Linked DNA regions of Homo sapiens. The main gene of each other region encodes a partner of the protein of the gene in region 3 in a complex. Each region holds a gene or a part of one and is shown on either strand. Other genes may lie near its edges.

Region 1 (7,970 bases), on a different chromosome or scaffold from region 3:
CTGTGAGTGTATTAAACTCTTTCTCTAATGCAATTCCCCTATCTTGATAAATCTACTCAGTCTGGGCAGCAGGCCAGAAAAACTCACTGGACAGTTACAATTTCAACTCCTAGCATCTTGCTCAAGAACTAAGACAGAATCAGTTAACCTCCACGATCAAAAATGGCTGTGACTTAAAATCTCTTTCTTTGAAGGAACGTTAATGTCAAACATCATTTTTTTGTCCCACAGATTTCAGTTGGGCAGGGCTCAGTGGGAAGGTTCATCTCTGTTGTATACAACATCAGCTAGGACAATTTGACTGAAGGCTGGAGGATCTGCTTCGGCTTCCAAACTGGCTTATTCAACACAGCTGAGGGCCAGAGGCCTTGGGTCCTATCCACATGGTGATAACTGCAGAATTCTTGGCACATAAAGGCTCCTTCCAAACCTCTGCACTTAAGAGATGACCATATCTCATGAGCAAAAGAAAAGAGAGAGAGAGAGAGGATCAAATTTTTGCATTGCTTCTGGGAGCTTAGGGTCAATTCTCTGGAATGATCCTGGGCTCCCTGCCCCCACCCTCCCATTGAAATCATCAGGAAGAATAGGGGTTCTGTCTTCCAGTCTGTGTAGGGGACAGTAGCCTGACTTTGATAGTTGCTGGCTAGTAGACACAACTAGCCTAATGACATTAACATTGACCCACCTTTTGTAATTTTTTACTCAAGCTCTGCTCTCTCCCCCTCCTCCTTTACTCTTTCTTTAAAAGGCCAAGTCACATCTAAAAAAGTTGGAATGAAGCTCAGCTCTTTCCCTGCTGTCTGTCAGTAGTTACTCAGTAAAATCCGTTTTTCACACTTTAACTAATGTTCGGCTTTGTTTATCTTTGACAATAGGTGACCTGGTCTTTCCCACAGTATGTTGGCTGGGTACAAAGAGTGAATGAAGAATGACTGAGAGAATGAGAGACAGAGAGAGCACATGTGCCAGTCAGGTGAAAGACCTCTTGCATTTTATGACTAAGCTTCATAAGTCAAATAATAACCTCAAGGAAATTTAACTTCTCCATATCAGAGGCATCCAAACCAGAGTGACTCCATCTTGAGTGATGGCTAGGAAAAATGGGGCTGGGACTGGCTGGGCTGCATTCCTAGAAAGTTAGGTATTCCTAGCCCCTAGATGTTTATAGTTAAGGGAACACATTGATAACATTTACTAAACAGACCCAGACTTAGGAGTGTCCTGATATCCCGATATCTTGAGAACAGAAGCATTCCTAATTTTGCTTTAAAGATAATATCAATTCTTGCAAAATATAGTAATTAGGAAGATTAATCCTTTATCACAAACCCTTGTGGCAGAGCACATCTCCTCATGATCTTTCTAAATCCTATTTATAAACAAGTATTGTACCTAGGGTGGATGCATTCCTCCTCCTACTTTCGGGAACGTCCTACTCTCTATGGAGTAACTGTTCTCTCATCACTTTACTTTCTTAATAAACTTTCTTTTGCTTTGCACTGTGGACTCGCCCTGAATTCTTTCTTACATGAGATCCAAGAACCCTCTCTTGGGGTCTGGATCGGGACTCCTTTCAGGTAACACTCACACCCCCATTCCACCCCACCCCCATCCCAAAAGGCTTTGAAAACATTGGTATTAACAAGCAAAGGATATTTTAATAAATACATATTTGATGGTTTATTGCCACCAATTTTGCTTACATTGCAATAATTATTTAAATTACATTAACTTTTACTAAAAATAGTAAAGATAATTTCACATCGTTTGTTTAAGTTAAACAGTTTGAAGTTAAACTTTAATTGTTAAAACAATTTAAGTTTTTCTCTTAGTTGCTAAAAGAAAAACTTTGGACAAGTTAACAGTTTAAGCAAACAACAATTCATGAATTGGGCACCACTTAAAACAAGAAGATATTCAGAGCGCTTCTGCAGGTGAGCAGTAAGCTTTAATAGAAAAGTAAAACAGTTACTTGATTGGCTACAGCTGGGTGTTTGCCTTATTTGGGTGTGAGGGCTGGGCCCGGTGGCTCATGCCTGTAATCCCAGCACTTTGGAAGGCCGAGGTGGTTGGATCATTTGAGGTCAGGAGTTCAAGACCAGCCTGGCCAATGTGCTTAAACCCCGTCTCTACTAAAAATACAAAAATTAGCCGGTGTGGTGGTTGGCTCCTGTAATCCCAGCCACTCTGGAGGCTGAGGCAGGAGAATCGCTTGAACCTGGGAGGCAGAGGTTGCAGTAAGCCGAGATTGCATCATTGCACTCCAGCCTGCGTGACAAGGCAAGACTCTGTCACCAAAAAAAAAAAAAAAAAAAAAAAAGGAAAATCCCTAATTAGAGGCTAGTTGGCAGTTTCTGATTGGTTAAGCTTATGTTTTGTTTTACTGTTGTCTTACTGTTTACACTGAATTCTGGTTTGCTTACATATAAGCTCCAGCTACAGAGACAGATGATATCAGGCTCATGGCCTCTTTATTTGCTTTGACATAGTAAAGTGTTGATAATGATTTCCAAAGGAAGAAATATCATTATTTTAAAATCAATATTCCCAGTGTATATACAGGTAAAATACTAAGATTTTAATACACTTATTATTTATTAATTTATTTATTTATTGAGATGGAGTTGCTCTGTCGCCCAGGCTGGAGTGCAGTGGCATGATCCCAGCTAACTGCAGTCTTTGCCTCCTGGGTTCCAGCAATTCTCCTGCCTCAGCCTCCTGAGTAGCTGGGATTACTGGCACCAGCCACCACTCCTGGCTAATTTTTTGTATTTTTAGTAGAAATGGGGTTTCACAATGTTTGCCAGGCTGGTCTTAAACTCCTAACCTTAAGTGATCTGCCCGCCTTGGCCTCCCAAAGTGTAGGGATTACAGGCGTGAGCCACCGCGCCTTGCCAAATTATTTATTATTATTTTTTTGAGACAGGGTCTCTGTTGCCCAAGCTGTAGTGGCATGGTCACAGTTCACTGCAGACTCCCCAGGCTTAGGCGTTCCTCCCACCTCAGTCTCCCAAGTAGCTAGGATTACAGGCGTGTACCACCACTCTGGGTTAATTTTTCTATTTTTTGTAGAGACAGGGTTTCACTATGTCGCCCAGGCTGGTCTCGAACTCCTGTACTCAAGCAGTCCTCCCACCTTGACCTCCCAAAGTGCTGGATTTACAGGTGTGATCCACAACGTCCAGCCTATATACTTAAGATACTTCTAAACCATTTGTGTTCAACTTCTGTTCTTGCCCCATAGTCACCTTGAGACTCATCACTTAGCCAACTCCAAAAGCATTGCTGATTACTGTGAATTTTACTAAGGTTTTCTTAAGAGGGTTCCATTGTCTCAAAATTGTTCCTGAAATATCCTGTTACCTGTCTACCTGATTTTCTCCTATCTTCAGAGTTCCATTTCCTGTCCTCCCGCCTGTCATTATACCTTCCATAAGCCCCTACTTTTGTCCCAGCACTTTTCCCTCTGTCAGTTTACATATCCCACCAAGCAAAACAAAAATAGCAAAACAGTAATGCCTTCTGAATCCTCAAATTGCTCAATCCTCAGATTGCTCCTCAATCTGGAAAATGTTTTATATCAAGCCCATTTATAAATCAAGGATTGGCAATTTAAAAAATTAAAATAAAGAAAGGAGAATTGGAAATAAAATGAATTGGCTGGGCACGGTGGCTCACGCCTGTAATCCCAGAACTTTGGGAGGCCGAGGTGGGTGGATCACTTGAGGTCAGGAGTTCGAGACCAGCCTGGCCAACATGGTGAAACCCTGCCTGTACTGAAAATACAAAAATTAGCTGGGTGCGGTGGCGCACACCTGTAATCCCAGATACTCAGGAGGCTGAGGCAGGAGAATCGCTTGAACCCAGGAGGCGGAGGTTGCAGTGAGCCGAGATCGTGCCACTACACTCCAGCCTGGGCAACAGAGCCAGACTCTGTCTCAAAAAAAAAAAAAAAGTTTAATTCACGCAGAGCCAGCTGAACGGCAGACAGGAGTTTGGTTATTCAAATCAGCCTACCAGAAAATTCGGAGACTGGGGTTTTTAAAGAATGACTTGGCGGGTAGGGGGCCAGGGATTGGCGAATGCTAATTTGTCAGGTGGGAGGTGAAATCACAGGGGGTTGAAGTGGGCTCTTGCTGTCTTCTGTTACTGAGTGGAATTGCAGAACTTGTTGAGCCAGATTATGGTCTGAGTGGCGCCAGCTAGTGCATCGGAATGCGCGGTCTGAAAAGTATCTCCAGCACCAATCTTAGGTTTTACAATAGTGATGTTATCCCTGAGAGCAATTGGGGAGGTCAGGAATCTTATAGCCTCTGGCTGCAAGCCTCCTAAATCATAATTTCTAATCTTGTGGCTAATTTGTTAGTTCTACAAAGGCAGACTGATCCCCAGGCAAGAATGGGGTTTGTTTTTGGAAAGGACTGTTACAATCTTTGTTTCAAAGTGAAATTAGAAATTAAATTCCTCCTGTAGTTAGTTAGGTCTTCGCCCAGGAATGAACAAGGGCAGCTCGGAAGTGAGAAGCGTGGAGTCATTTAGGTCAGATCCCTTGCACTGTCATAACTTTCTCACTGTTAGGATTTTTGCAAAGGCAGTTTCGTGAACGTACAGAGACAGGCCCTTGCTATTATCCCTATTTTTTAGATAAGGATATCCAGGCGATGAGGAAGTTTTACTTCTGGGAACAGCCTGGATACGAAACCTTCACACGTCAGTGTCTTTTGGACATTTTCTCGTCAGTACAGCCCTGTTGAATGTTCTCACGGTGGGGAGGTACGTGTTTAAAATGCGGGGAAGGTGCTTTTATTTCACCCCTGGTGAAACTAGGGGAGCTAATTTTTTTAAACATGATTTTTGGCCCCCTTGAACCGCCGGCCTGGACTACGTTTCCCAGCAGCCCGTGCTCAAGACTACGGGTGCCTGCAGGCGGTCAGCGTCGTTTGCGGCGGCGCAGGCGCGGTGCGGGCGGCGGACGGGCGGGCGCTTCGCCGTTTGAATGGCTGCGGGCCCGGGCCCTCACCTCACCTGAGGTCCGGCCGCCCAGGGGTGCGCTATGCCGTCGGGAGGTGACCAGTCGCCACCGCCCCCGCCTCCCCCTCCGGCGGCGGCAGCCTCGGATGAGGAGGAGGAGGACGACGGCGAGGCGGAAGACGCCGCGCCGCCTGCCGAGTCGCCCACCCCTCAGATCCAGCAGCGGTTCGACGAGCTGTGCAGCCGCCTCAACATGGACGAGGCGGCGCGGGCCGAGGCCTGGGACAGCTACCGCAGCATGAGCGAAAGCTACACGCTGGAGGTGCGCTCGCGGGCGGAGGGGCGCTTCCGGCCTAGTTGGCGTGAACCGGTGCCTTCCGAGCCGCGTCGCGCGCCTCGAGAGACTCTCGGGCGGGTTGCGGGCTCCCAGCCCCGAGAGGGGTGGGGACTTCCTCTGCGCTATTCCGAGGCTCTTAGCCGCTCCGAGGGCTAACCCGCTCTCGCCGCGCTTTCCTGCGGCTTCCGAATGGGGAACGCGTCTTGCCCTAAAGTAGCACAGCAAGGCTGAGATCGCGCTGGGGTCCCGTTGAGGAAAATGGGTGTGTGTGGCCCATCTGACCCCCCGCCCGCCTTGTTAGTAGAATGAACTAGTGTCGTTGTCAAGACCACACGGACAAGGGGAGGGGACTTGCCCTTATTTGCACCGCGATTAACCGGGTTGTGGCACCTGGGTCTCCAGGCGTCTCCGTCTGTTCGCTTCCCCCTGTTAACCAAATTGCCTTTGCCCTGGCGTTGCGGGCGTTTGAGTCAACGTGCTGATGCGTTTTGGGCTGTGTTTACGTCTGTGTAAACAAATTAATACTCATTTCCCCCCAGGCCAGATGAAATGAGCCCTCCGCCGACCCGGATGTAGACACATGCCCCCATTTGTCACTAGGATCAGGACTGTGGCTACCTCGAGGGCTTTTTGGTCACCCCGGGCATTGCACAGGACTCCTGTTGTTGTTGCGATCCGGGTGTGTTAGGTCGCAGCCTTCGGACAGGGCTTGCAGATGAGAAAAATGGCCATTCTAGCCAGTGAGTGTCAGCTTTGTATGCACCTCCCCTTCATGGGCCAATGGGAAGTGACACGGAAGTACGGATTGTTTATCAGCTGTTTGACTGTGTGTGTGGCATTTAAACCTGAGGCCATTTGATTTCTCAAGTCGTTTTATAATTAATTTGTAGAAAGAGTCGGGCAAATAGGTCCAGGATGCAAAGCCTAACCAAGGTATTATTTAAATATGATGTTTTTGGCTATGTGTACTGATGAGTGAGGTTATTTTTAATTTGTATTTGCATTAATAGAATTTTAATTCAATTACTAGTTCCCTCTTTGAATTGTTAGGTCTGCAGAAGATAGTGTATGGTGGCTTTAGAACCCGACAGACCTGAAACCGCTGGAAAAGTTCAGTATGGTGATCTCTAAACTGGAGATATTTGTGTTTACCTCACAGAGCTGTTCTGAAGATTAAATAAGGCAATAATGTAGTTTCTGGCACATAAAGCACCCATATGGACAGTGTTTTCAAGTTTACTAAGCTCTTTGTATATTTACATGATCTGGCTGAGTAAGCTATGTTCCTATTCATCTCTCAGTGCCTTTCTGTAGTCTGGCAAAGAGAAGGACTGGTTGGCTTTTTATGTTGTTTTTTGTTTTTTGGGTTTTTTTTTGGTAAATGGCCTTAAAGGCTTCCAAACAAGCTCTTATTTTACCCTCAAGATAATCCTGTAAATCAGATAGAACAAGCATTATCGCCATTTATTTGAGGTATTTCAACTCATAGCAGTTAAGTTGTATGAAGTCTAGTGATACATGAGCAAGTATCACGTAATAGCTGGTTAGTAAATTATTTTTGAAAACATGTTTGATTACTCAATTCTTTTGATTACTGAGACTTTAGTTTCAGCTTCTTAGCCCAGTTTATTCAGTAAATGATTTACTCAGTAAAATATTCATCAAATATTTCTTGAGCACCTATTACTTGCTACACATTGTTCTAGGTGCTGGATATAGAGCAGCAAACCTGCTCTTGTGGGGCTTACAGTGAGGTACGCTGTGACAATATGGGATGTCATTCTCATGGGAGTGCAAGGGAAAATAAAGCTCTTATGATGTTTAATACAGAATACTGGTTATGGAATTTTAACTTGATTTCTTGTATTTTCTGTGCATTTTTAACCTGTAACTCATTCTCACAGTCCTCAGCCAAGAAAATGCAGCCTCTGAGACTGTTAAGTAATTTCCCCACTGTGTTATAGCTACTGTATGGCAGAGCCGGAATTTGAAACCAGATCTATTTGACCCTAGAAGATGTGACCATGAGATGTTAATTTTGAGGATAACTTTTTTAGTATTATGGAATTTTCAACATATATTTTTTAGGACCAAAGATAAACTAGGCACAGAGTCTACTCTTTGCATAAATTATTTAAAAGAGCTTCGCGCTCCATTTTGTCATCTAAGCACTGTAAAATTCTCACAAGACTAATTCTTCTTTTTAGGAACGATATAGTTGTAAACTTTCTATTTTTTTTCTTTTTTTTTTTCTCCCTCCACCATCCAAGTAGTTGTGAATTTTCTAGAGCCAAAATAGAACATTATAGATTATCTTTTAAACCCTTTATTGAAGCAGAGGATAATGCTGTGACCGACTTAACTTTATGCTTTCTAAGAGATATTGATATAGTAGAGAAATGCAGTAGTTATGCATCTAAATTTGCTTTTACATCATAAATCAAGAATATTATGAAACCATCTCCCAGAGATATATGTGATACACAGATCTTGGCTGTTTTTTTTTTTTTTACAAAAGAACATCTATGCTATTGATACATATAAGTGGGTTTGTAAGACAGTCTATGTGTAAATGTGAAAAAAGGAAGAATTTCCAGTTCTTCTCATTTTCATTTAGACCAGTAATGAATACATTGAAGCTAAAGGACATCTTCCATCC
Region 2 (7,193 bases), on a different chromosome or scaffold from region 3:
TTAATTTGAAATGGAGTCTTGCTCTGTCGCCCAGGCTGGAGTGCAGTGGCGCTATCTCAGCTCACTGCAACCTCCACCTCCAAGGTTCAAGTGATTCTCCTGCCATGTACTGCTCTACATTTGTTTTGTTATAATTCTTTTTTGTTTAGTTCCCCCAGAATCTGTCATTACAAAGATTTTTGAAATTATATGAACAATGACAAACATTGACAGAAAAAGATCAGATTGTTTTATACTAACAATGATAATGTCTTGCTCAATTAAAAAATTAACCCCATTGATCTTCATTTAATTTTTATCATCTTATTTTATTTTTAGAACCAAAGTTGTTTAAAAACATTTTTTTTAGGCTGGACACGGTGGCTTACGTCTATAGTCCCAGCACTTAGGGAGGCCGAGGCGGGTGGATCACCTGAGGTCAGGAGTTTGAAACCATCCTGGCCAACATGGTGAAACCCTCTCCCTATTAAAAATATAAAAAATTAGCCAGGCGTGGTGGCGGGCGCCTGTAATCCCAGCTACTGGGGAGGCTGAGATCAGGCCATTGCACTCCAGCCGGGGCAACAAGAGCAAAACTCCGTCTCAAAAAATAAAAATAAAAAAAAATTTAAATTTAGCATCAACTAAAACCTATTTGCCATTTCTGAATAGGGCTTTAAACTTTGCTCCTCTTCTATTCTGGAAACACAGGAATAGCAAATAGACAATGACCACAAATAGTTTTGTCCCAGAAACAAAGAATATTAGCATGAATCCAAACTGGATAGCTAAATTTGTTTTGTTTCCTATCCAGCCAAATAATTCTATATGCTTGATACTAGAGTAAGTAAAAGATGTATCTGAGACCCATAGAGTAGCTGCAAGGTGAAAAAAATTAATATACAGTAGAGAAATAGGACAACATCTTGACCAGATGACAAAAATTAACATCACCAATGAGATGCAGATGGATAACACATGCCATCATCAGATGTGATATCCTCAGGAGACAAAATCACTTATACAGTTTTCCATCAGGGAATGACTAACCTGCATCTAATCAAAAGTTAATAGGAGACAAATCCAAAATTGGGAACCATCTATTAAAAGAGGGGATGAGGGTGGGCACAGTGGCTCACGCCTGTAATCCCAGCACTTTGGGAGGCTGAGGCAGGCGGATCACAAGGTCAGGAGTTTGAGACCAGCCTGGCTAATATGGTGAATCCACATCTCTACGAAAAATACAAAAATTAGCTGGGCGTGGTGGCACATGCCTGTAGTCCCAGCTACTCAGGAGGCTGAGGCAGGAGAATCGCTTGAACCCGGGAGGCGGAGGTTGCAACGAGTCCAGATTGCACCACTGCACTCCACCTGGGCAACAGAGTGAGACTCTGTCCCAAAAAAAAAAAAGGCTGAGGCAAGAGGACCACTTAAGGTCAGGACTTTGAGACAAGCTTGAGCAACATAGTAAGACCCTGTCTCTATAAAAAGATTTAAAAATATCAGTCAGGCATGGTGGCACATGATTGTAGTCTCAGCTACTTGGGAGGCTGAAGCAGGAGGATCATTTGAGCTGAGGAGTTTGAGGCTGCAGTGAGCTAAAAAGGTGCCACTGCACTCGAGGCCTGGGCAATACAGCAAGACTCGGCCTCTAAAAAAATTTTTTTTAATTAAAGAAAGGGACAAAGTGATTGTGGATTATATTCTTCAAAAATGGTAATGTCATAAAAGAAAAAGAAAGGCTGTGGAAATGTTCCTAATTACAGAAGAATAAATAGACATGATAAGCAAATGCAATACCTGATCCTTAATTAGAAATTGTACTTCCAGGAAAAAAAATGCCATAAAGAACATTATTGAATCAACTAACAAAACTAGAACAGAGTTAGCAGGTTAAATAAAATTATTTTATCAGTGTTAATTTTGCTGAAGTTGGTAGCTGTACTGTAGTTATTTAAAGAAATACACAGTGAAGTATTTTGGGGTAAAAGGCTACAAATGTATGCTACTTAGACTGAAATGGTTGAGGATAAAAAGAGAAAGATCTGGCTGGGAGTGCTGGCTCACGCCTGTAATCCCAGCATTTAGGGAGGCTGAGGCGGGTGGATCACCTGAGGTCGGGAGTTCGAGACCAGCCTGACCAAACATGGAGTAACTCCGTCTCTACTAAAAATACAAAATTAGCCAGGCGTGGTGGCACATGCCTGTAATCCCAGCTACTCGGGAGGCTGAGGCAGGAGAATCGCTTGAACCCAGGAGGCAGAGGTTGTGGTGAGCTGAGATTGCACCACTGCACTCTAGCCTGGGCAACAAGAGCAAAACTCCATCTCAAAAAAAAAAAAAAAAGAGAGAGAGAGAAAGATCTATATATTGAAGAAAGAAAAATCAAATGAGAAAGCAAATGGGATAAAATGTCAATAACAGGTGACTCTGAGTCAAGGGTATATGGGTATTGTCCTTTTCTTATTTTTGTAACTTCTCTGTAAGCCTAAAATTATTTCCAAATTTTAAAAAATTAATTTTAAAAAGTATAGCTAAAGATTCAACACAGAGGTTTCTAGCAGAATTTGAGAAAGGCAGAGAAAGAATATGAAAATTGGGAAAGGATTATCTATGTTATAACTTAGAATTAAATGAAGTCACACAGTGGCTCACGTCTATAATCCCATAGCACTTTGGGAGGTTGAGGTGGGTAGATCATTTGAGGTCAGGAGTTCGAGAACAGCCTGACCAACATGATGAAACCCCATCTCTACTAAAAAAAAAAAATACAAAAAATTAGCCGGGCTTGGTGGTGTGTGTCTGTAATCCCAGATACTCAGGAGGCTGAGGCATGAGAATCACTTGAACCCAGGAGGCAGAGATTGCAGTAAGCCAAGACTGTGCCACTGCACTCCAGCCTGGCTGGCACAGTGAGACTGCGTCTCAAAAATAAATAAATAAATAAATAAATAAAATAAAAATTAAATGAAGTCAAATGATCTCAAAACAAGAGAAAACTGATTCCAAAATTTAGAGCTTATATAACATTTAAAAACATCAAAGAGGTTTACCTTAATTTAGCTGAACGTAGTATTCTGGTAAGTGAAACACAGTTGCCTTCCATGATACCCTTTCCAACCGTGGGAATAATGCTTTTGCGGCATGCAACATATAATGAACATGCCAACCAGTGTGTAACTTCTCCCTGGCAAGCAAAAGACAAACAGCAAAACAGGTATAATATTATGTTAAAATGCTTTAATTCTAGAAACAAGAGATGTAGAATTATCTGGTCTCAATTTTCCTTATGTAGATAAAGGGCCAGAGAAGTGAAGATATTTGCCCAAGGTCACAAAGCTGTTAGTTGCAGTAATGGGTATAAAACTCCTTACTCTTAGTTCTGTGTTTTTACAACTATAACATGCTAAATTAATATTAATCTAAAGATAAAAGCCTGGCTTGGTGGCTCATGTTTGTAATCCCAGTAACTCGGGAGGCTGAGGTGCGAGTATCACTTGATGCCAGGAGTTTAAGACTAGCCAGGGCAACGTAGACTCTAAAAATGAAAATAAAAAAATTAGCCAGGCATGGTGGTGCTTGCCTGCAGTCCCAGCTACTTGGGTGGCTGAGGCAAGAGTATCGCTTAAGCTCAGGAGTTCAAGACTGCAGTGAGCTATGTTTGTGCCACTACATTCCAACATAGGCAGCTGAGCGAGATCCTGTCTCTTAAATCCTGTCTCTTAAAAAAAAAAAAAAGAAAAAAACTCTTTCACCTACACTCCAAATCTAATACAGGCATATGCCACATAACATCTTGGTCAACACTGGACCACATATACAATGGTGGTCACTTAAGATTATAATACTTGCCAGGCGCGGTGGCTCATGCCTGGGAGGCTGGAGCGGGTGAATCACTTGAGGCCAGGGGTTCAAGACCAGCCTGGCCAACATGGCAAAACTCCGTCTCTACTAAAAATGCAAAAAATTAGCTGGGTGTGGTGGCATGCACCTGTAGTCCCACCTACTTGGGAGGCTGAGGCAGGAGAATAGCTTAAACTCGGGAGGCAGAGGTTGCAGTGAGTAGAGATCGTGCCACTACAGTCTAGCCTGGGCAACACAGGGACACTCTGTCACACACACAAAAAAGATTGTAATACTGTATGTTCTAACTGTTCTATATATTTAAAAAATTATAATTTACTGTACCCCTTTTATGTTTAGATACACACATACTCACCATTATAGTTGCCTATAGTGTTCAGTACAGAAACATGCTGAACAAGTTTGCAGCCCAGGAGCAACAGGCTATATTAAACAGCCTAGGTGTATAGTAGACTACACTATCTAGGTTTGCATAAGTATACTCTGTGAAGTTCACACAACAAAATCACCTAATGTTGCATTTCTTAGACCATGTCCCTGTCATTAAGTGAAGCATGTCTGAATTACCAGAAGAGTTTTATTAAAATTTGTCAGCATGACTTTCTTGATTTTAAGAAATGGCCTTGATGATCCTGAAGTTTCTATCGTTTTTGCTTTATGTTTCTCTTTAGTGTGGCAGGGAAAGGCAAGAACAGAGTAAAAAGTTGGCAAGGGAGTCACACATAAAAAATTAATATTAATCTTACGCAACATGAAGGAGACTGTCATTTTTGTAAGGTAAACATTTGGGGATTTACCCCAAAACATGTCATCTTTAAAATACAGTCATATGCATTGCTTAATGACAGGGATATATTCTGAGAAATGCAACATTAGGCAATTTTGTTGTGCAAACATAGCATAGCCTACTAAACCTAGGCTATATGGTATGCTTATTGTTTCTAGGCTACAAACCTGTGGAGCATGTTACTATACTAAATACTGTTGGTAAATGTAACACAATAGTAATTATTTGTGTATCTAAACACAGAAAACATATAGTAAAAATAAAGTATGTGTGGTCCATCACTGACTGAAACATTCTGCAGCACACGACTGTAGTAAGCACGGCTCTTTATATTAGTAGATATCTCAATTTACAATGCCACAAAAAGGTGACATTTGGGAATTCAACAATTTTCTGCATTAGACTTCAGACATCTCCAAGCTAGAATCACTTCATGACTTCACTGCTGAAATACAATAGCTGAAGTTTAAGGATTAAGAATTACGGATAGGCCGGTGCGGTGGCTCACGTCTGTAATCCTAGCACTTTGGGAGGCCGAGATGGGTGGATCACCTGAGGTCAGGAGTTTGAGAGCAGCCTGGCCAATGTGGCGAAACCCCGTCTCTACTAAAAAATACAAAAATTAGCCAGGTGTGGTGGCGCACGCCTGTAATCCCAGCTACTTGGGAGGCTGAGGAAGGAGAATCACTTGAACCTAGGAGGTGGGGGTTGCAGTGAGCCGAGATCACGCCACTGCACTCCAGCCTGCGCAACGGGAGTGAGACTCCATCTCAAAAAAAAAAACAAGAATTACAGATAAAGGCCAGGCACAGTGGCTCATGCTCGTAACCCCAGCACTTTGGGAGGCTGAGGCAGAGGATTGCTTGAGCTCAGGAGTTCAAGATCAGCCTAGGAAACATAGTGAGACCCCCGTCTGTACAAAAAAGGAAAAAATTAGCCGGGTATGTGGCACGTCTGTAGTTAGAGCTACCTGGGGAACTGAGATGGGAGGATCATTTGAGTCCAGAAGGTTAAGGCTGCAGTGAGCTGTGACTGACCCACTGGACTCCAGCAAGGGTGAAAGAACGAGACTCTATCTCAAAAAAAAAAAAAAAAAGAATTACAGATGTAAATCTGATAGCACAACACAATAGTGTTCTTATACACTGTTCCACAGACTGTCTTTAAGACCAAACCCTAGAAGGATAAAAAGATTGATAAAAAGATTTCTTGCAATAATCTAAAAGGGGTGGGTAGAAATGGGTGGCCATCAATAAACCCAATGTTCCTACCCTGAAGGAATGAGAAGTCTTTTCTCAAAGCACTAAATGAGGCAGGTAAGCTTAAAGATGAATATTTTTACAAGCTTTGATTAATGAATTGCTTGGGAATAGGGTCTGGTCATGGTGGCTTACGCATGTAATTCCAGCACTTTGGGAAGCTGATGTGGGTGGACTGCTTGAGTTCAGGGGTTCGAGACTAGCTTGGGTAACACAGCAAAACCCTATCTCTACAAAATACAAAAAAATTAGCAGGACGTGGTGGTATGCGCCTGTAGTCCCAGCTACTCTGGAGGCTGAGATGGGAGAAGTGCCTGAGGCCCTTTTTTTGTCTCAAAAAAGAAAAAGAGAAAGAGTTGTTTGGGATTAGCATCCAAGTATTATAGAGCCTTTGGATACAGGCTACTAAATGAAAATTCTAGCAAGATGGTGAAAATATAAGTCCTAAAATTATTGTTTCGATTTTTTTAAAGACATTAAAGAATACACTGATTTTTATTTTACTTTTTAAAACAGGGTCTCACTCTGTTGCCCCAGGCTGGAGTGCAGTGGTACAATCAGGGCCACTGCAGTCTTGACTTCCCAGGAATGAGGGCCACTGCAGCCTCGACCTCCCAGGCTCAAGCAATCCCCCCACCTTAGCCTCTGGAGTAGCTGGGACTAAAGGCACATGCCACCACACCCAGCTAATTTTTGTAGAGATGGGGTTTCACCATATTGCCCAAGCTGGTCTCAAACTCCTGGGCTCAAGTGATCCACCTGCCTCAGCCTCCCAAAATGTCGGGATAACAGGTGTGAGCCACCATGCCCAGCCTATTTTATTTTGTGTAGAGATAGGGTCTCACTATGTTGCCCAGGCTGGTCTTGAACTTCTGGGCTCAAGTGATCCTCCTGCCTCAGCCTCCCAAAGTGCTGGGATTATAGGTGTGAGCCACTGTGCCTGGCCTGACTTTCTTTCCTTAAAAAAGTCAACTATTTTATTCCATGAGAATAAAATAGAATACAATTCTATTTGATAAAATCCTATTTCATAAAAATTCTATGAATTCTATGATATCAGAAACCATTTTTTGCATTTCTAAGGCCTACTTGCCAGGCCTTAGAAATACAAAAAATGTTTTCTGATCTCACAGAACTTCACATCTGGAGCTAAGAAGAGGAACAGATACTATCATTTATAATTGGTGAGATATACAAGCTATAAGAAGAACTGAAGATAAAGTGTTGTAGGAGAATATAGTGCAGTGAATAACTGATTTTGACTACAGTTTAGGGAAGGCCTCACAAAAGGAGACAAAATTTGT
Region 3 (7,918 bases):
AGCGTGGGGGCCCAAGCCTGTGGTCCCAGCTACTCACCAGGCTAAGGTGGGATTATCACTTGAGCCTGGGAGGCGGAGGTTGCAGTGAGCTGAGATCCACTGCACCCTAACCTGGGTGACAGAGTGAGAACCCATCTCATTTAAAAAAAAAAAAATTCTATCAAACACCAGGGCTTACAATTGTATTATCTTTGACATCTCTCTTTCCATAGAAATATTAATCTGTCATATATCATGCAGATTACACCTTCACCATGACTCTATCCTCCTGTAACCAATTGTGTCTAAATCTCCAACTCCTGAAGCCTACTATGGTGTTTTTACCTCCATCTCCCCTTACCTACAATGCATTCTACATAAAAGCTACATGTACAAGATTTATCTTCTGAAGTATATCTCTGAGATTGTCATTATCCTACACTAAGTTACATTTTCTGTAACTCTTAAGGCCTTCTGCAGCAAGACCCCACTGAATTGATCCTTCCAACTTCACCTCCAGTGATTCTTAAATTGAAAGTTCCCTGAAGTAATGATATTGAGGTTATTTTATCCACTATCCCTAGCATACTATATGACACCTAATAGACACCCAATAATAATGTTTGAAAAAGTAGTGAAAATCGGCCGGGCGCAGTGGCTCACGCCTGTAATCCCAGCACTTTGGGAGGCCGAGGTGGGTGGATCACGAGGTCAGGAGATGGAGACCTTCCTGGCTAACATGGTGAAACCCCGTCTCTACTAAAAATACAAATAAAATTAGCCCGGCGTGGTGGCGGGCGCCTGTAGTCCCAGCTACTCAGGGGGCTGAGGCAGGAGAATGGCGTGAACCCAGGACGCGGAGCTTGCAGGGAGCCAAGATCGCGCCACTGCACTCTAGCCTGCGCCACTGCACTCTAGCCTGGGCGACAGAGTGAAACTCTGCCTTGGAAAAAAATAAAGAAAAAGTAGTGAAAATCTATAATACTCTTCCCCCAAAAAATGAACACTGGACTATCTCTGGTGGTATAATTCTTGCTTCATTTCTAACACACTTTTAATTATTAATACACAATTGTTCTAACCAGGACAATCTGAAAACTGGTCTTTAAAGACAATCACAAAGAATCACAAAGAGACAATAGCCCTCTGTGATTAAAAGAAAGCCAATGAAAAAGCTTTTTAATCTCCCTATTTTAATTATTTTTAAAATTCTTAGTCTTACTACTGAGTCAGCAGCTATAAGGCATGGGTCAAATAACTGCAACATAAAAACTGTAATTTTAAAAAGACAAAACCAAATACCTACTGAATAATACAGCATCAGACAAATTATTTTTAAAAAATAATCATTATCGTCATCATTAAACCTTCTGAGTACCTCTAAGGTATTTCTCCTAAAAATTTTTTTGGGTCTCTTATTCTTCTAGTAAGTGAAAGCCAGACCTACAAACTATACACACCTATTCACACAAAATATTTCCCCTCTAAGTAAACTACAAAATTTGTGATATATGACACACTATGGCACAGTGTGTTACATATACTCTTTGTAGACAATTTGAATAAGGAAATAATATCACATATACTCTCTGTAGACAATTTGAATACGGAAATTTAGGGCTAATCATAAACATTACCCATGGGCATTCCTCAATACTAATCCTTCTGTTCATTATACACTCAATGTCATTGACCCAAAAAAGCTGGGGGAAAAGCATAGGGTCCAAATTAATGTATAAAAATTTTTTTGCCCAGCCTAAAAATTTGATTCACATGTAACTTTTCTGTAACACTAGTGTTGTGTGCAAGGAGACAGACTCCTTACGGATCTTTCAGCATAACCTAAAACTTAACATGGGTCTTCAGATAACCTAATAAAACAGTGGCTGTTATAGTCAATCAATCCAGCTCTCTAAACAAAGGGCTAGGCTAATCACTCCAGCATTTAGTGATTTAGAAATAACAGAGGTCTCAATTTATTTTTCCCAACTTAATGTACTCACAACAAATGCTTGCATCACCCCATCGCAACTCTCCTTCTTAACAATGAAGGTAAAACTCAGGACCAAAAGAGAGCTCCTAGAGCTGTATTTCATTTGCATTATAAAATCTACAGCAAAATTTTTCATAACTTTACTCTCTGAATTCATGAACTAGGTTGGCGGGGGCAGGAGGGTGAGTATAGAGAAGAACTTCCCTGAAAAGCATGAGTATAAAATATAACTGAGAGTATCTCAATTGTTATATGCCAAATGGCAGGGGCAAAGAGGTTAGTTACTCTAAGGATAACAGAGCATTAAAAATTTTTTTTCTAATTCTTACAAAACTGGTCCCTATTCTATAAAATGTGAACATCCACAACCCAACAAGTTACAGACTAGGATCTAAGACACAGATCTTAAATGCAGATAAAATGCCAATGCTCTGCCTCCCTAAAGAAACGTACAACCCCAAGAACTGCTGAACACCATCAAAGCAACACCCGCCAGAGTGGCTGTTTTAAACATTATATCAGGAAATCATGATAAGTGCTAGCGGTTCCTCTAGGCCTCAGCAGCAGCCTTAGGTATAAGAGCAAACTGGAGCCCTCTTAACACTCAAAGAATAATGTTGATGTCATGACGAGGCTACTGATTCTTCGCACTCCGGACAAGTCATTCCTTGATCCACCGCGCAATTCTTTCCCCACCCACCCCCATCCCCCCAAATAAAGAGATCTCCGGACAGAGAAGCCCTCGGGTACCCCATCCTCCTCTACCTCCAGCGGCTGCCGCTTTCTCCTCCCTCGGGCTCCGAGGTAGGGGCTCCAGAAGGTCCTGGGCAATCCCGAGCCCCGGCGGGGCTTGTTTTGCCCGTGCACGATAGCTCTGGCCAGCAGCTTCCTTTCCCAGTTTGTCCAAACTGGAGCGCTCCAGGGTACCCGGGGACCGAGAAGGGAGCCGGGGTGGCGACGTCGCCGTCGCCGCCGCCTCTGGTATGTCAGGGGCCGGGATTGTATTTCGAAAGATCCGCCATTTTCACCTCGTCATCACCATCACAGCTCAGCAGCTTCCCCGACAGCCGGAGCCCGGGCCGCCGCCGCCGCCGCCACCACCAGTAACCTCCCCCTTCCTCCTCCTCCCCTCCCCGCCCGCCCCACCCGGGAGGCGCACACCCACATATCCGGGGAAGCCTCCCGCCGCCCCGCCAACCTTCAAACGCACAAGGGCCGTGCAAGTGCACACGGGCTACGCCGAGACCTTTCACCCCCGGGCGGAGCACGGGCCCCCGCAGGGACGCCAAAGGAAGTCGCGCCACCTGCGGGGTCCCAAGTCCGGCATATTTTTGTTTGCAAGACCAAAAGCCATGCGGAGGGTGGCATAAGGACAATAAAGAACCCAAACTCTTTCATTTTCAGAGCAGCAACTTGAGAGAGATGGTGGAATGCGTTTCATTCACTGTGGCTATCTCAGGCACTAAAAACACTGTGAAAGACCTTTAATGTCATTCACCAACTTTGACATTTTACCCCACCCGCAGAACTACTTTGACAGGATGAGCTATTTCCATATGCATGTTCGACCTTTGACACCTTTGTCAATTACAGGCAGCAATCCTCATGCAGATGAAGTGGTCAAAATATCTAATTTAAAAAAATAAAGTTCTGAGCTATCTTCCTCTCCAACTTAATTTATCTGGTCATTTCTGTCCATGAACACTGCGACTTCCAATCTGTCATCGGTTTAAGACGTCAAAGCGCAACTAGATTTGAAATGATTGAACTAATTGTAGAAACATTCATGAATGATCGATTTCTAAAATATTGAAAATATAACTCTTAGCTAAAATTATTTGCCAAATGTTTTTTTAGGATCTAAGTCATCAAATTAAAAAAAAACCATCTGCTGCTGATATATTTGTTCTGTACAGTAAAAATAAACAGCTTGCTTCAGAACAAGATCCTAGAGCTACCTACTAGGTAGGTAAGAGTTACCAGCTCTTGTCATCAGTCAGTTGAATAAGTAACCAAAAGAGAACAGAGGTAATTCTTAATCATTTAAAAAATAACAAAACATAAGCTGCAAGGCTTCTGAAGAGATCAGCATTAAAAAAAAAAAAAAAGGAAACTGGCTGCCTTTGTCAATTTTAGAAAGAGTTAACCATCCAAAAGCTGAATTCTGTATCATTCAACCACAACATAAGCTCTGGGCAAACTGAATTTCAAGGCTGCGAACAGGGCCACTCTACTGTCTAAGTTAGTGTAGGAAGAGTAAGGTTGAAGTTGAAGTTGAAAAAGTCATTTCATTTCCCTACCTTGTTTCAATGGCAACTCCATATAAAAGTCGGTAGATTCAGCCTTCAACAAGGGCTGTCCACCACCCACCCCAATTGCTGTTTTTATATGCAGACTACCAGATGCTGAGAGTATAAAGTGTTCTCAATTACTTCATCTTTAAACTTCATTTCCCCACTGACGGCCCCGTCCATCCGCACTCTGCTTGGTTGTTTACCGTTGCTGGCCAAGCTAAGTCCCGGCCCGCTCCCTTCCCCCGTGCACCTCGGGAACATTATGACATTTGGCTGGTGGGCTTCGCGAGGAAAACGGACACGCACGAACAAGAGCCTGTACAAAGGGGCATAGGAAGAACGCGGCGGCGGGCAGTAGGGAGAGGAGGGACTGGCACAAAATGACACAGCAGCAAAACCGGTTCCCAGAAACCTGGGGCCGCCACGGGTGGCTTGTTGGGTCGCGCAGTGTGCGTGTCAACAGCCGCAGGAGCCCTTACTCCAGACCGCCGGGCAGGCGGCTGGCCGAGCGCTGGCCCTGCCGGGTGACAGCCACCCTCTCGGGAGCCGACGGGAAGAGACCGAGCCCCAAGGATCCTTCGCCCCCCGCAACCCAGCTTCAGGGAAGGGGCGCGGCGGACCCCGCTGGCGGGTTCCCGCTCCCCGCCAAGGCCCACCGGCCCGGGCTCCCGGAGGGAGCGGTCCAGCGCTCTCCGCCCGCGCAGGCACTCGCAGCGGGGGCCGGTTCCCCCTTCCCGCCAGCCCGCCCAGGAGCCCCCATCCCGGGGGCTGACACTCACCAAAGCCGGCGGCGCCGCCGCCTCCTGGTCGCGCGGCGCTCCCTGGGCTCCCAGCAGCAGCGGCGGCGGCGGCGCCTCCGAGACACAGACCAGGGTTTGTTCAAAATCACGCGCCCAGCCCCATTCCACCGCCGCATCCCATAATACGCTGGGCCCTCCCCGCCCGCGCGCCCCTCTCTGCCCGCCCCTGCGCTCCGCACCCCGCCCCACGGCCGGCTTCCTTCGCTCCGCCTCTTCCGCGGCGCCTCGTCCCTCCCCTTGGCAACCCAAGCCCGCGTCATTCCGCCGGGCTCCGCCAGGGCGCTCCAGTTCCACGTGACGCCGAGTGGCGCCCGGTCAAAGCGATCGCACGGAATGTTCCATCGGACTGAAGCTGATGGGGGGAGGACCCGCATCGCGCTGCGGTTGGGAGAGACCGTCCCTTCGTCTAGCTTTCCTTGTTAGGAAGTCCGGGTTGTAGGTGCGACTTCCAGGATATCCCGCTGTTTGATGTGCTTGAGTGAGGAGGTGATCAGTAGTCACAAATGCCAAGTCACTGTGTTTTTAGGCACTAGTTTTGCAGTGTCGCTAAAAAGCCACAGGGAGATTCATTGAGAGTTAAACTTATTTTGAAAGACGTTTTGCATTTCTTGCAACACGCAGCTAAGACTAACACAGTCAAAATTATTTGTATTTAATCACCTTTTATTTTTTCCCGCGATTTATATGATATCCAAATACGGAGTCGGATGAACAGACGCTGACAGATCATTCTGAGGGGAAAAAAAAATTATTCTGAGAGATTATTATCAACTGCTGTGAGTGCGACAAGCACTACATATACGAAAATAGAAAATACAAGAGTGTAAATGTAAGATGGTGCGATACAGTGTATAATTTGCTAATGGAGTACGGAGGACATACAGGTCAGCATGAGAGACTACCTCGGGAACATAATGGAGGAGGTGAAACAGTGTAGGGGAGGCAGCAGTCACTTTGGAATCAAGCAGTACTGGTATTTAATGGCACCTCCGTTTATTAGTGTATATTGTATAACGTTTATTTTCCTATCCAGCAAATAAAAATAACAAAACTTCCCAGGATTCTGATGGTTAAATAAAATGAAGGGTGTTAAGCAGGTACACAGTCTCTGCCTGAAATGTTAGTTCCCTTGTGCCATAATCAACACCCAGTACCAGCCCAAACACTAATAGTCAGGATTTAACAAGGCAAATGTCATGAAATTAGCAAAGCCTTGAAAATGGGAAGGTCTGTGACATGTGTAAGTAATGTGATAAAGTTGAATGACACAAAGGCTTTGTTGGAGATCAGCATTGTGAGCCCACTTTATGAGGAACCTTGAGAGCTAGTGTGAGAAATCCTCATGGTAAAATGATTGATGGTGCTGTTGGGGCACCACTGGAAGGAAGAAAAGAATGAGATGGGGTACCCAAAACTGGCTAGATTTTAGAGAGACCAAAATATCTCAAAAAAAGGAGACCCTTTCCCAGTTTATTCCACAAGGCAGCATAACTCTTATACTAAAACCCAAGACAAACAGTACCCAAAAAAGAGAAGGGAAACTTCCTTTCTTGCTATGATTTTGTTATGAAGGCAAAATTGAGTATTTAGTTGTTATTGGTGCTGTGGCTCACACCTGTAATCGCAGGACTTTGGAAGACTGAGGCAGGAGGATGGGTTGAGACCAGGAGTTTGAGACCAGCCTGGGCAACATAGTGAGATTTCATCTCTACAAAAAAAATTTTTTTAAATAAAAAGAATTAAGAAGTTATCAGACCGGGCGCAGTGGCTCACACCTGTAATCCTGGCACTTTGCGGGGCTGAGGGAGGTGGATCACCTGAGGTCAGGAGTTTGAGACTAGCCTGGCCAACATGGTGAAACACTGTCTCTACTAAAAATACAAAAATTAGCCGGGCGTGGTGGCATGCGCCTGTAGTCCCAGCTACCCAGGAGGCTGAGGCAGGAGAATCACTTGAACCCGGGAGGCAGAGTTTGCAATGAGCCGAGGTCATACTACCGCACTCCAGCCTGGGCAACAGAGTGAGACTCTTTAAAAAAAAAAAAAAAAGATGTTATCAAATTCCAGCAATGTGGTAGTAAAAAGAATTTACATCATGACAAAGTATATGGTTTAACCGAAACAGTGATTTAACATTAAGAAATCTACTAGTGTAATTTATTAGATTGAAGGAGAAAAACCAAATGATAGTCTCTAGAGATACATTGTATAACATTCAATAACCACCCTGAATTTTTTAAATTCTTAGTAAACTAGAAATAAAAGAATGTTTCCTTAATTGGATCAAGATAATCATCAGAGAACAACACCATACATTTCAGTGAAATGGCAGAGGCTTTCACCTTAAAATCAGAAACTCAATAAGGAGGCAGGGATATAGTAGCTGTTTACCGTTTTTGAGTGTGTCCTAGCTAAGTTAAATAAGAAAAAATGAAAGAAGAGGTATAATATAAAGGAAGAAGGAGACTAAATGGTCCTTATTAAAAATAATCAGGCCAGGCACAGTGGCTCATGCCTGTAATCCCAGCCCTTTGGGAGGCCGAAGCAGGTGGATCACAAGGTCAGGGGTTCGAGACCAGCCTGACCAACATAGTGAAACCCCGTCTCTACTAAAAATACAAAAATTAGCTGGGCGTGGTGGCGGGCACCTGTAATCCCAGCTACTCAGGAGGCTGAGGCAGGAGAATTGCTTGAACCCAGGAGGCGGAGGTTGCAGTGAGCCGAGATCGCGCCACTGCACTCTAGCCTGGGCGACAGAGCGAGACTCCCGTCTCAAAACAATAAACAATAAAAAAAAATAATAATCATAGGGGCCAGGCGCGGTGGCTCACACCTGTAATCCCAACACTTTCA
Region 4 (7,193 bases), on a different chromosome or scaffold from region 3:
AAAATAAAGAGGGGTAAGTTTAATTTTTGTAAAAAAGATGTTTATATAGAGGCATAGAAAACTGGGATGAATATACAAGCTGGTTATTTTTATTTTCTTCTAGTGGCTCATCAGCATTTTCTCATTTTTTCCATAAGAAATGTACGTTACTTATATAAATGATTTATCAAGATGAATGAGTGCCGGGTGCAGTGGCTCACATCTGTAATCCCAGCACATTGGGAGGCCAAAGTGGGAGGATCACCTGAGGTCAGGAGTTCAAGACCAGCCTGGCCAACATGATGAAAACCCATCTCTATTAAAAATACAAAAATTAGCCAGGTGTGGTGATGCATGCCTGCAGTCCCAGCTACTCAGGAGGCTGAGGCACAAGAATCACTTGACCCAGGAGGCAGAGGTTGCAGTGAGCCAAGATATTGTGCCACTGCACTCCAGCCTGGGCGACAAACCGAGACTCAGTCTCAAAAAAAAAAAAAAAAAAGGCAGGGGGGAGAGAAATGAGTTTAATATTGGGAGAAAAAGAATAATGGAATAATTTTTAAGAATCACAAAAGACAAACAAACTGGGGTGTTCTGGAAGACAAATTGTCTTCTCAAGCTAGAAGGATTTAATTTGGTAAATCACCAATCCAAAGCACAATATAGTAGCTTTAAAGACTAAAAGTACTTTGAGAATATTTAGCTTGGTTCCAAATTTATTGACCTACCAGAATCTTAATCAAGAGGTAAAATTTTAAAGAAACTATGTTAAAAAGGTTAGTCTAATGTACCTGCCAAAAGAAATAGTGAGACCAAGGAACATGTCAAACTTTTTCTTAGAATGAGAAAAGTACTATTATTCTTTTATTTTTATTTCAAGACATTATTACTTAGAAAGCAAGATTCTTTTTTTTTTTTTTTGGAATTTGAGACAGAGTCTTACTCTGTCACCCAGACTCCCAGACTGGAGTGTGGTGGCGCGATCTTGGCTTACGGCAATCTCTGCCTCCCAGGTTCAAACAATTCTCCTGCCTCAGCCTCTCAAGTAGCTGGGATTATAGGCACCTGCCACCACTCCCGGATAATTTTGTATTTTTAGTAGAGATGGGGTTTCACCTTGTTAGCCAGGCTAATCACGAACTCCTGAGCTCAAGTGGTCCGCCTGCCTCAGCCTCCCAAAGTGCCGGGATTACAGGCGTGAGCCACCGTGCCCAGTGAAAGCAAGACTCTTAAAAATAAGCTATTACGGGCCAGGTGTGGTGGCTCATGCCTGTAATCTCAGCACTTTGCAAAGCTGAGGCAGCAGGATCCCTTGAGCCCAGGAGTTCGAGACCAGCCTGGGCAACAAAGTGAGGCCTCCTCTCTACAAAAAATAAAGAAATTAGCTGGGCATGGTAGCATGTGCCTGTGGTCCCAGCTACATGGGAAGCTGAGGCAAGAGGATCACTTGAGCCCAGGAGGTCGAGGCTACAGTGAACTGTAATCACATCACCACACTCTAGCCTGTGTGACAAAGCGAGACCCTGTCTCAAAAAATAAATAAACAAAAAATCTGCTGGGCACAGTGGCTCACGCCTGTAATCCCAGCACTTTGGGAGGCCAAGGTGGGCAGATCACTTGAGGCCAGGAGTTTGAGGCCAGCCTGGCCAACATGGTGAAATCCCGTCTCTACTGAAATTACAAAAATTAGCCAGGCATGGTGGCACATGCCTGTAATCCCAGCTACTCAGGGGGCTGAGGCAGGAGAATCGCTTGAGCCTGGGACGCAGAGGTTGCAGTGAGCCAAGATTGCACCGTTGTACTCCAGCCTGGGCAACAGAGAGAGACTGTCTCAAAAACAAACAAACAAACAATTATGCTAACATATAGGTCAGCACAGTCGTTTAACAAATGCTTTTAATCTAAATATTTATGGAATGTTTAATTAGAAAGGTTTTTAATCAATAATTTTAGAAATTTTTAAAAATAATTTCTAACAACTGAGGATCAATTCTCCTATAAAAGCATATTAATTTAAGGTTATCAGTGAAAACCAATACTGAAAAGCTACAATGAATCATAACTTAGAAGGAAAATGGAAACACTATATCCAGATTAATTTAACAAATTAGACTTTTAGCTATGGTATACCTAAAAATGCTATACTTCTTACCTTTTAAACTGACAAGGGCTTTTGCTGAAGAGCCTGCAATTAAAAATAAAACAAATCAATAATTATTTCATAACCAAAGTGAGAGAAAAAGACCTTGGTTTGGGGGTAAAAGTGATCCATTTAGTTTTAGTAATGTTGAGTTTGAAGAGATGGTGGAATGTGCAATTCGAAATATCTGGCAGACAATTCAAACTATAAACCAGAACTCAGATAAAGAAAGAACTGGAGAGAGACATATGAGAGTCTTGCTGAAGTTGTGAGAACTGGAGACCATTCCAGGAGAAGAAAGTGAAGAAACAGAAGAAAGAGGAAGAGTGGGGACAGAGGTAATTTTGGATCCTCATCCAGGCGTGCTGTGGTGCTGGAAGAAAAGAGAAAGGGAACCGACATCCATTGAGGCAAAGACTGATGTAGTAATGGAGTGGAAAAAAACAGGCAATGGAAATGATTCAGGGACTGTCAGAGCAAGCAATAAGTCCCTTGAAAGTCTAGAATGCAGGTATATGTGATACTTCAAGATCTAAGCTGGAAAAGGGAATACAGAATGGCCAAGAGGGGCTAGAATAAAGTTGGAGGGGTCCACTGGATAAAACAAACTCCAGTGTACATTAGAGGCCAGGTATGATGGCTGACACCTGTAATCCCAGTGCTTTGGAAGGCCAAGGTGGGAAGGCTAGCTTGAGGCCAGGAGTCTGAGACCAGCCTGGGCAACATAAGGAGATCCTGTCTCTAAAAAAATGTTTTTAATTCACTGGGTATGGGGGCACGTGCCTAAAGTGTCAGCTACTCAGGGGGCTGATGTGAGAGGCCTGCTGGAGCCTGGGAGGTTGAGGCGGCAGTGAGCTGTGACCGTGCCACTGCACTTCAGCCTGACAGACAGAGTACGACTCTGCCTCAAAAAAATAAAAAAGACATTAGAATAACAAGGAAGCTCCTCATACATGCAAAATCTAGACTGAATCTATATTATTAATAAACAACAGGGGATTCTGTTGCAGGTAACCCACTTTGAGAAACATCAGGCTACAGGTTCTGGTGTGAATGAATTATAGGATCTATGGGTAGGGAAAGTAGAAAAATCAATAGAGAGGCCGGGTGCGGTGGCTCACGCCTGTAATCCCAGCACTTTGGGAGGCCGAGGTGGGCGGATCACAAGGTCAGGAGATCAAGACCATCTTGGCTAACACGGTGAAAACCCGTCTCTACTAAAAACACAAAAAATTAACTGGGTGTGGTGGCGAGCACCTGTAGTCCCAGCTACTCGGGAGGCTGAGGTGGGAGAATGGCGTGAGCCCACAAGGCAGAGCTTGCAGTGAGCAAAGATTGCGCCACTGCACTCCATCCAGCCTGGGTGACAGAGTGAGACTCCATGTCCAAAAAAAAAAAAAAAACAAACCAATAGAGAAAGAAGCTTTTTGAGAGTGAGAAAGCACTAAATTTAAAAATCTCAGAATTGGATGTATACATTGCAAAGTCCAAGTCATCTGAAAAATAATAATTAAGGATGATCTCAGGGGATTAAATAAAAAAGAACATGAACTAGGAACAAAAATCAGAGAGGACGGATTAATCCTCCTTGCTATTTAACAAAAGCAGCTATGATTTACATCTCATATAAATGGATAACAGACTTAAAATGAGAAGCAACAGATAAAGTATGGCAGTTATGAAACACTTCATCTCAGATCCTTAAACACTATGCATCTCTGATCACTAAACCTCAACTGACTTTTTCCTCCACAGGTCTGTGTAAGAGACTTGTGAAACAGACACCTATTAGCATTAAAGACACTTACTTTCACTCTACTCTCTTGCCCAGATGTGAAGAATAGTTAACAGGACACCATAAAAGCTTCTGCATGGCAAATGAAGCTTAATGACAAAAGGCAGTAAAGTCATGGGGGTGAATGACATAAAATCTTGCTAAAAAGTCTCAAACAATGAAACACAACTGTAAAGCAGCAATAGTAGACAATACACACATCTGTGTACCAAAAGATATGCAGTGCATTTGAGAAAAAGTAGTAACCATTCACTCACTGAATATGTAGAGTACTGATGGCATGCCAGTCCCTACCTGCTCTAGGCAATGGGAATACAACAGCAAGCAAAATAGTCAAAGTCCCTGCTCTCATGGAATGTACATTCTAGTGATGGGAGGCAAACAAAAACAGCTATCGAGTAATGATAAGCACTCTGGAAAAAATAAAGCAGAAGAAGAAGAATACGCAGGGTGGGGATGGAGGGAAGGAAAACTATTTGTATATAAGGTGTTCATGATGAGCTTCTATGAAAGGTGATGCTTAAGCAGAGATCTGAAGGAAGAGGTATATAGGCCATAAGAATATCCACTCCTGCTCCACGAAGGCAGGAACCATATCTTGGGGATTCTGACCAATCACCTTTAACCTTTTTTTTCTTTTTCGTTTTCTTTTTTCTTTTTCTTTTTTTGAAATGGAGTCTCACTCTGTCACCCAGGTTGGAGTGCGGTGGCGCAATCTCAGCTCACTGCAACCTCCACCTCCCGGGTTCAAGAAATTCTCCCCACCTCAGCCTTCCAGGTAGCTAGGATTACAGGTGCATGCCACCATACGCAGCTAATTTTTGTATTTTTAGTAGAGACAGGGTTTCGCCATGTTGGCCAGGCTGGTCTCGAACTCCTGACCTCAGGTGACCACCCGGCTCGGCCTCCCAAAGTGCTGGGATTATAGGCGTGAGCCACCGCAACCGGTCCTTCTTTCCTTTTTCTAGATGCAGGATAGCATAGTGGTTAAGAAAACAGGTTCTAGATTGAGACTAGCTATGTTTGAATCTTGGTCCTGACACTTTCTTGCATGCTACCTTAAGCAAGTTACTTTGCCTCTCTGTGCTATTGTTTCTTCATGTGTAAAATGAGGATTAAATGAGTTAATACATGTAAAAGTGCATAGAACAATGCATATATTACACAGTTAATTTTGATATAATGCTGTTAGTATTATTTTGAGCAATCAAAAAATAATAGGTTAAGAACATGGATTTTTCAGTCAGGCGAATCTGATTAAATTAGAATCTTGCTCTAACGAGGTGTTCATTAATCCAAAGATTCTACCCTTCTTAGTTCATAAGCATGATGATTGGGTTTTCATACTCATGTGTGAGATGTGTCTCTCTCAAACTTTGTGAAAAGTCAGCACATGACCCATCTGATGTGGAAAAAAAAATTTTATTGAATGCCTACCATAAGCACTGTTAGGGGCGAGGGTTACCCCAAAGAACAAGACAAACAAAGCCTCTCCTCACAGGAAGCTTAAACTCTAGTGGAAAGAGACATATATATATAAAACACGTACATAATAATTATAGCTCATGATAAAGGAAATAAACAGGGTGATATTGGTGGGGACGGGGGAATTACTCTAAGTACTAGCTACCTTACTTTTGAGTACAGACGGTTTCTCTGAGGAGGTAACATCTAAAAAACTAGCTGTGAGAGAGCAGGAAATCAAAGCAATGAGTCTGGGCAGAAGAAACAGGTTAAGTCCTAAGAAGGGAGGAGGGGTGACTGTGCTTGCATAGGGAAGAATGGTATGAAAGGGCAGAGGTAAGCCAGGTGTTATGCATGGAACTGGGAATGCAATTAAGACAGTACCTGCTCTGATGGGGCTACTAACCAATCACATAAACAAATACAAAACTGCAACTGTAATAGCTGCCACTAGGAAGTTACATAGTAATACAAAAAGATTTAAAGAATATGGGCCTGGCCTGGCACAGTGGCTCACACCTGTAATCCCAGCACTTTGGGGGGCTAAATGACTTGAGGGCAGGAGTTCGAGACCAGCCAGGTTCTACTAAAAATACAAAAGTTAGCCGGGCTTGGTGGCACACATCTGTAATCACAGCTACTCAGGAGGCTAAGGCAGGAGAATTGCTTGAACTCTAGAGGCGGAGGTTGCAGTGAGCAAAGACTGCACCGCTGCACTCCAGCCTGGGTGACAGAGCAAGACTCCATCTTTAAAAAAAAATAAAGATAGGCCCTGCATGGTGGCTGAAGCCTGTAATCTCAGCACTTTGGAAGGCTAAGGCAGGAGCATCGCTTGAGGCCAGGAGTTTGAGACCAGCCTGAGCAACATAGGGAGACCTCGTCTCTACAAAAAAAAGAAAAAAAAAAAAAAAAAAAAAAAAAACCTTAGTTGGGCATGGTGGTACATGCCTGCGGTCCCAGCTACTGGGGAGACTGATGCCGGAGGATCTCCTTAGCCCAGAAGATCAAGGCTGCAGTGAGCCACGATCATGCCTCTGCACTCCAGTCTACACAACAGAGGGAGACCCTGTCTCTTTAAAAAACAAAAAACAGATTTAAAGAAGACATAATTTAGTCAGGGAGGATGGGAAATGGCTCTCTGAAGAAGCATAAAATGGGATCTAAAAGACAATTAGAAGTTAACTGAAAGTAAGGGGGGTGTGGGGGGGTAGCATTCCAGGTTGAGAGAACAGCATGTGCAAAGACCCTGGAGAAAAGGGGAGACTGGCGAGTATCGGGAATGAAAAAGGTCCAATTTACCCCAAGGGATAGAATGAGGGGACAAGTGGTAAAACATAAAGCTGAGAGGTAGGGAGCAGCCAGACCACAAAGGGTCTTATAGCTACTAAAGGGTTTGTAACAGGAGGATGACATACATTCGTTTTGAAAGGATCCCTCTCGCTGTGTGTTTGTGGGAAGGGGGCTGAATTAATGAGAGGCTGAGGTAATTGGTAAAGAGAAGAAATGGTAACAGTTTGGGCTATGCTGATGGTAAGAAATGGGTAGAATTGATAGATATTTAGAAGGTAAAATTTACAGACTTAGTAAAGGCTTAAATATGGGAAGTGAAAGGGAGGAAAGTGGCTGGGGGCGCGGTGGCTCACCCCTGTAATCCCAGCACTTTGGGAGGTTGAGGCGGGTGCATCACCTGAGGTCAGGAGTTTGAGACCAGCCTAGCCAACATGGTGAAACCCCGCCTCTACTAAAAATACAAGAATTAGCCAGGTGTGGTGGCGGGCGCCTGTAAACCCAGCTACTCAGGAGGCCGAGGCAGGA

The links.
Region 1: LIN54 (region 3) and RBL2 share a complex: the UniProt entries of both Homo sapiens proteins name them as parts of the DREAM complex.
Region 2: LIN54 (region 3) and RBL1 share a complex: the UniProt entries of both Homo sapiens proteins name them as parts of the DREAM complex.
Region 4: LIN54 (region 3) and LIN9 share a complex: the UniProt entries of both Homo sapiens proteins name them as parts of the DREAM complex.

The regions. Positions count from the first base shown.
Region 1 is NC_000016.10:53,429,501-53,437,470, forward strand, and holds the start of RBL2 (retinoblastoma-like protein 2), read left to right. Parts: upstream 1-4,970; 5' UTR 4,971-5,056; coding exon 5,057-5,296; intron 5,297-6,118; exon of another isoform or gene 6,119-6,226; coding exon of another isoform or gene 6,227-6,244; intron 6,245-7,970. UniProt on the Homo sapiens protein: Key regulator of entry into cell division. Directly involved in heterochromatin formation by maintaining overall chromatin structure and, in particular, that of constitutive heterochromatin by stabilizing histone methylation.
Region 2 is NC_000020.11:37,085,957-37,093,149, forward strand, and holds part of RBL1 (retinoblastoma-like protein 1), read right to left. Parts: intron 3,167-7,193; coding exon 3,033-3,166; intron 1-3,032. UniProt on the Homo sapiens protein: Key regulator of entry into cell division. Directly involved in heterochromatin formation by maintaining overall chromatin structure and, in particular, that of constitutive heterochromatin by stabilizing histone methylation.
Region 3 is NC_000004.12:83,007,747-83,015,664, forward strand, and holds the start of LIN54 (protein lin-54 homolog), read right to left. Parts: upstream 3,078-7,918; 5' UTR 2,738-3,077; intron 1-2,737. UniProt on the Homo sapiens protein: Component of the DREAM complex, a multiprotein complex that can both act as a transcription activator or repressor depending on the context. In G0 phase, the complex binds to more than 800 promoters and is required for repression of E2F target genes.
Region 4 is NC_000001.11:226,299,042-226,306,234, forward strand, and holds part of LIN9 (protein lin-9 homolog), read right to left. Parts: intron 5,323-7,193; exon of another isoform or gene 5,221-5,322; intron 2,165-5,220; coding exon 2,132-2,164; intron 1-2,131. UniProt on the Homo sapiens protein: Acts as a tumor suppressor. Inhibits DNA synthesis. Its ability to inhibit oncogenic transformation is mediated through its association with RB1. Plays a role in the expression of genes required for the G1/S transition.